Regions from separate parts of the Homo sapiens genome. Here region 1 is linked to region 2. The links come from fine-mapping of genetic effects on gene expression. A gene starts in region 2. The other region holds a variant in brackets. All regions are shown on one strand. Distances are from middle to middle. Region 1 overlaps CACNA1A (calcium voltage-gated channel subunit alpha1 A). Region 2 holds the start of STX10 (syntaxin 10).

The links. PIP is the estimated chance that this variant, and not a neighbour inherited with it, causes the effect.
Region 1: its variant is the best candidate, but not a certain one, in a credible set for the expression of STX10 in subcutaneous fat (GTEx, PIP 0.58).

What each region holds. Positions count from the first base shown.
Region 1 is chr19:13,213,049-13,215,946 of GRCh38, forward strand. CACNA1A (calcium voltage-gated channel subunit alpha1 A) reads right to left here. Exons shown (of 47, transcript NM_001127222.2): 39 at 1,453-1,560; 40 at 1,185-1,285. Among named protein-coding and RNA genes, the nearest start is that of IER2, 64 kb to the left of the region's middle. RefSeq lists a silencer at 2,553-2,753 and enhancers at 2,634-2,683, 2,804-2,898. The variant G/C (reference allele first, on the strand shown) is at 1,367.
Region 2 is chr19:13,148,573-13,151,470 of GRCh38, forward strand. STX10 (syntaxin 10) reads right to left here and starts at 1,803. Exons shown (of 8, transcript NM_003765.3): 1 at 1,567-1,803; 2 at 1,156-1,325; 3 at 927-1,021; 4 at 457-519. The coding sequence starts at 1,601. IER2 (immediate early response 2) reads left to right here and starts at 1,839. Exons shown (of 2, transcript NM_004907.3): 1 at 1,839-1,980. RefSeq lists silencers at 1,314-1,363, 1,404-1,563 and enhancers at 1,684-1,883, 1,904-1,973.

The DNA.
Region 1 (2,898 bases), 64 kb after region 2:
GTCAGGTCCTATCCCTCCTTTGCTTAGAACCCTCCATGGCTCCCACTTGCTTGGGGAAAAAGCCAGAGTCCTTCCTGCAGCTCCCATGGCCCTGAAGGATCTGCCCTGTCACCTCCTTGCCCTTGTCTCCTCCCTGCTCTTTTCCACCACACTGGCCTCTTTGCTGTTACCCAAACAACCCAGGCACGGTCCAGCCTCAGAGCCTTTGCACTGGCTGTTTCCTCTGCCTGGAACACCCTTCCAGGTATTGCTTAGCTCACTCCCTCTCCCCTTTTCCTTCAAGCCTTTGCTCACATGTCACTTTCTCAGGGAGGCTCCCCAACTACCCATTTCCCACCGCATCCCCTCCTCCCCTGGATACTCCTATCTTCTGGATTCTTCTCCACTTTCCCCCACGACACTTTCTTTCTCTTTGCTGGATGTTGCACGATTCAGTCATTTGCTACCATTGGCATTTCCCCACTTGGAATGTCTGCTCCCTGAGGGCAGGGATTCTGGCCTATTTTCCCCATGGGTGCATCCCCGAGGACTGAGAACAGCGCCCTGCACACAGTAATACTCAATAAGTGTTGGTGGAGCAGCTGAATGAAGAATGAATCCACATGATGTGTCCTTGGCAAGAACTTTTTTTTTTTTTTTTTTTTTTTTTTTTGAGATAGAGTCCTGCTCTTATCACCCGGGCTGGAGTGCAGTGGCTTGATCTTGGCTTGCTGCAACCTCCACCTCCCAGGTTCAAGTGATTCTCCTGCCTCAGCCTCCCAAGTAGCTGGGACCACAGGTGCATGGCGCCACATGCAGCTAATTTTATTTTTTTTTTGTAGAGATATGGGTCTTTCTATGTTGCCCAGACTGGTCTCCCACTCCTGGCCTCAAGTGATCCTCCCATCTTGGCCTCCTAAATAGCTGGGACTACAGGTGTGCACCACCATGCCTGGCTAATGTTTTATTTTGTAGAGATGGAGTCTCACTGTGTTGCCCAGGGTGGTCTCATCCTGGTCTCAAACGATCCCTCTGCCCTGGCCTCTCAAAGCACTGAGATTGCAGGTGTGAGCTGCTGTGCACAGCCCCTACTTTTCAGGGACCTGCCCTGGGGCTCAGCCACCCTCATATTCCAGTTGGTTCCCGTGGTGACATGCAAGCCACTGTCCCCAGCCCAGATGTCCCCAGAGCGGCGAACAGCGCACCTGCTCCTCGCGCATGGCCTGCAGCTTCTTGGCCTTGCTCTGCCGGTAGTACTCCATGATCATCATGGCTGCGTAGATCTTCCCCACGGTGAGGTCCGTGGCTGGGGGCACACACACGGTGAGCTCACCAAGGGCAGGCCTCTTTGGGGCCCTTGTCCTGGGTCCCTGTGTATACCAGCCCA[G/C]GCCAACACTCTCCCCAGGCCTCCCCTTTCCCTCCCCCTCCATCTGTCCTGGTGGATTGGATCCCAGGGCTGGGCTCAGCTCTTACACTTGTGAGGTGTGACCAGCAGGTCTAGCGTCTTCTGGGACAGATTGGGCCAAATCGCCATCATCTCCTTCCGCAGCTCAGCGTCCATCTGCTGTTTGTCGGCTCCTCCTGCAATGGGGGTGTAGACAGACCCTGACTGCCTGCCTGGGTGTCAGCTGGACTCTGGGTCAGCTGCAAAGCCATAGGCTCCCGAGAACGAGACCCCAATCTTTCTGGTCCCCATGGGGTCTCCAGTTCCCCAACGGCCTGGCCCAGAGGAGGCCCTGGGCAGTGCTGCTGGAATGACCTTGTGGGCTCTGGTTTTCGGTGGGGCCAGGACCATGGAGCAGCTGTGCAGGAGACAGCCCGGCATGGAGAACAGCTGGGCGACCTGGGTCCCAATCTTGTCTCCCAGTTATCGGCTGCATGACTTAGGTTACTCTACCACTTAGTAACTCAGTTTCTCCATCTGTGAAATGGAGATGATAGCAAGAGTACTTGCCTCACCTGGTTGTTGTGTGTGTGTGTGTGTGTTTTTTTTTTTTTTTTAGACAGAGTCTTGCTCTGTTGCCCAGGCTGGAGTGCAGTGGCACGAGCTTGGCTCACTGCAACCTCCGACTCCTGGGTTCAAGCAATTCTCCTGTCTCAGCTTCCCGAGTAGCTGGGATTACAGACATGCACCACCATGCCTGGCTAATTTTTTGTATTTTTAGTAGAGACGGAGTTTCACCATGTTGGTCAAGCTGGTCTCGAACTCCTAACCTCGGGTGATCCACACGCCTCGGCCTCCCAAAGTGCTGGGATTACAGGCGTAAGCCACCGCGCCTGGCTGGTTGTTTTTTTTTTGTTTTTTTTTTGAGATGGAGTTTCACTCTTGTTGCCCAGGCTGGAGTGCAATGGTGCAATCTCAGCTCACTGCAACCTCTGCCTCCTGGGTTCAAGCGATTCTCCTGCCTCAGCCTCCCGAGTAGCTGGGATTACAGGTGTGCACCACCACGCCCAACTAATTTTGTATTTTTAGTAGAGACGGGGTTTCACCATGTTGGCCAGGCTGGTCTCAAACTCCTGACCTCAGGTGATCCACCCTCCTCAGCCTCCCAAAGTGCTGGCGATTACATGCGTGAGCCACCGCGTCTGGCCTGTTTTTTTTTTTTTTTTGACAGAGTCTCTCTCTGTTCCCAGGCTGAAGTGCAGTCATGTGATCTCGACTCACTGTTACCTCCGCCTCCCAGGTTCAAGAGATTCTCCCGCTTCAGCTTCCTGAGTAGCTGGGACTACAGGCACGCACCACCATGCCTGGCTATCACCTGGTTGTTTGATGATCAAAGTAACGTGCGTGCAGCCTTGGGACAGTGTCTGCCATAGGATTATTACTGCAGTGACCCATCTGTTCAAGGCTGGGACGCCCTGGAGCATCCCCAACAGAGGAAGTTTTGGTTTTGGTTTTATTTTGATTTTTGAGACAGG
Region 2 (2,898 bases):
GGGAGGCTGAGGCAGGAGAATCGCTTGAACCCAGGAGGCAGAGGTTGCAGTGAGCTGAGATCAAGCCACTGCACTCCAGCCTGGGCAACAGAACAAGACTCTGTCTCAAAGAAAAAAAAAAGAGTAAAAGGCAGGCATGCGTCCTGGAAACAGGTGCACACAGGACAAATGGCATGGAAGCAGAAAGGAGATAGGTACACAGGCCCCCAGCCCTCTCCTGCAACAGGAAACCAGTATAGACCCAGAGGACACAGTAGAGAGGAACCCACGGACATATACACATAGAGAGGTTCAGGTGCACACACCGAGAAAGTGCAGGCAGGTAGACAGCAAGAAGATAACTGCCCACAGAGAGGACGGGCACTGTCGCAAAAGGGACAGGTGAACACGCACAGAGGGATCTGGCTTGGTTACCCCCAGGGGCTCAGGTGGGCAGGGTGGGTCAGGAAGGCTTACCTCTCTGTTATTCCTCTCCAAAAATGCTACGGCTGTTGGGCTGACCATATGGTCCTTCATTTCCTGGAGGTAAGGACAGCATTAGGGAGGAAAGACACTCAGGCTGGGCGCGGTGGCTCACGCCTGTAATCCTAGCACTTTGAGAGACCAAGCCGGGTGGATCACCTGAGGTCAGGAGTTCGAGACCAGCCTGATCAACATGGTGAAACCCCGTCTCTACTAAAAACACAAAACTTAGCCGGGTATCGTGGCAGGCACCTGTAGTCCCAGCTACTCAGGAGACTGAGACACAAGAATCGCTTGAGCCTGGGAGGCGGAGGTTGCAGTGAGCCGAGATTGCAACACTGTACTCCAGCCTGGGCGACAGAGCGAGGCTCTGTCTCAAAAAAAAAAAAAAAAAAGAAAGAAAGAAAGAAAAAAAAACACACTCAAACCTTCCCCCACTCCCCGCCTGCAGGACCTTTCCTGACCTGGACTGCCTCTCGCATCCGCTCCACGAACACCTTTCTCTCCTGCAGGTCCCCGGCTGGGAGCTTGAACTTGCCTGGGTTGGCTTCCACTATACGTGGGCTGAGAGTCAAGGGTCAAGGCCGGAGCCAGATATCATCCCCGTCCCTAGGGGTCCAGCCCTACCCGAAGGTGGGCTGCCACCGCAATGGGCTCTCCCATGCCACCCTCTGCCACAAAGCCCCAGGATATCGATGGTCTCTTCCAGGTCCTCGAGGTCCCACTCGATGCTGCGCAGGCCATTCCGCAGCTCATTGGTCGTCCAGTCCAGCTCCTCGCGTCCGACCGCCGCGCTTTCCTGCAGGAGCTCGCACCAGCGCTGGTACAGCCCGCGGGCCGTGTTCACCGCCTTCTGCACCTCGCTGCGGGCAGGGGCACGGCGGGCGCGGCTGGGGGCAGGCGGTCCTCCCGCCTGCCTCTGCCCCCGACTGCAAACCCAAACGCATGGGGGACTCCGGAGACCCCTATATACCCCTGCGTGCGCCTCCCACTCTGCACCCCGACGGCCTTGCCCAGCCCGCCGGGCACGCTGGGGCCGGCACCCGGGCACTGGCTGGCTTGGGTACAGAGCACCCTCCGCCCTCCCCCGTCGTTGTCACTCACCCTCGGACTACAAAAAAGGGGTCTTCGAGAGACATGTCAGTCCCTTCCCCCCCAGGCCGAACCCCCCTCCCGGCCTGGGTTCGCGGGCTGGTTCCCTCCCAACCGAGGAGAACGCGCCGCCACCCCCGCCCCCGTCACGCCACCATCGAGAGCCGGACCGCCAGGGGAGAAAGAGAAGCCTCGGAGGCCCGACGTGCGGACACTTCCGCCCTCTCCTCAGCCATCTTGGTTGTGGGCAGAGGCAGCTTCCGGTGCACATGCCCCCGCCCCTTAGCCCTCTCGTGCCGCACCGTAGGGGGCGGTGTCGGAGTTCTGTCTGGGCCTATTCGGGTCCGAGTTCGGAATTTCGGTTCAAGGCCCAGTTCCTCGGATTGTTCCTGCGCAACTTCAGTTTCCCTTCCAGGCACGGGCAATGTAAATAATGATAGCCTCCCTCATCTCTGGCGGCTGGGTATTATGGCTGGGGAAGGGGCTCATTCGATTCGTTGAAGCTTTTCATGGACTCCCTGAGCTGGCACCTGGGAGATCGTCCCATCCCAGGGTCCCGAGTGTCAGGTTTGGCTAGGGTCTGGGGGAGAGGTGGTCCTCCCTTCTCCCTGCGGGGGCGCGGTGAGGAGCGGGCCTGCTCCTCCGGGGAGTTCTGCCGCATTCTCCCAATCTCTTTCCTGAGAAGTGGCGGAGTTGGGGGCACTTCGAGGTCGCCTTGGGGCGAGGTGGTCGTGAGGGGGTCCCAGATATGCCAGCAGCGGGGGGAGGTCACCTTTGAGAAAGTGCGTGGAGGTGGGTTTCTTCAGAAGCGCGGAGTCTTTCTGGGTGCGAGCCTGGGGGTAGCGGGTGGTGGCTTTGAGGATGGTCTCCAGGGGGGCCCTCTGTGTGTGGGGTCTCCGTCTGGGTAGGGGCCAGGAATATCAGCGGAGGGACTCAGGGTCGTCCCTATGTGTGACAGTGGCGCTGTGTGTTGGGGAGCTTCGGGAAAGCACTTTTTTTGAGTGATAGGGGGCCTGGTCTCCCCTGGAGGGTGGGCGGGTTATCTGAGGGAGTCCTCGGAGGGTCGCCCCCTTGCGCGTCAGAGTTGCTGCGTGGGGTCTCAGAGATAGCGCCTGGGCTGGGGAAATCATTGTGGGGTCTCCGTGGTAAGGTTAGCGGGGTGGGGACGGCCTGCGTCTTCGGCAGGTCGTCGCAGTCTGGCACCATCGTTGAATGGGGACGAGTTTGGGAAGGGTATTTTAGGGGGGAATAACTTTTGAGTTCCCAGCGTGCGGGGGAAGGGCGGGACGGGAGGGTGTCCCAAGGCCTGAGAAGATCAGTGTGGGGCAGGGGTCAGGAATAACC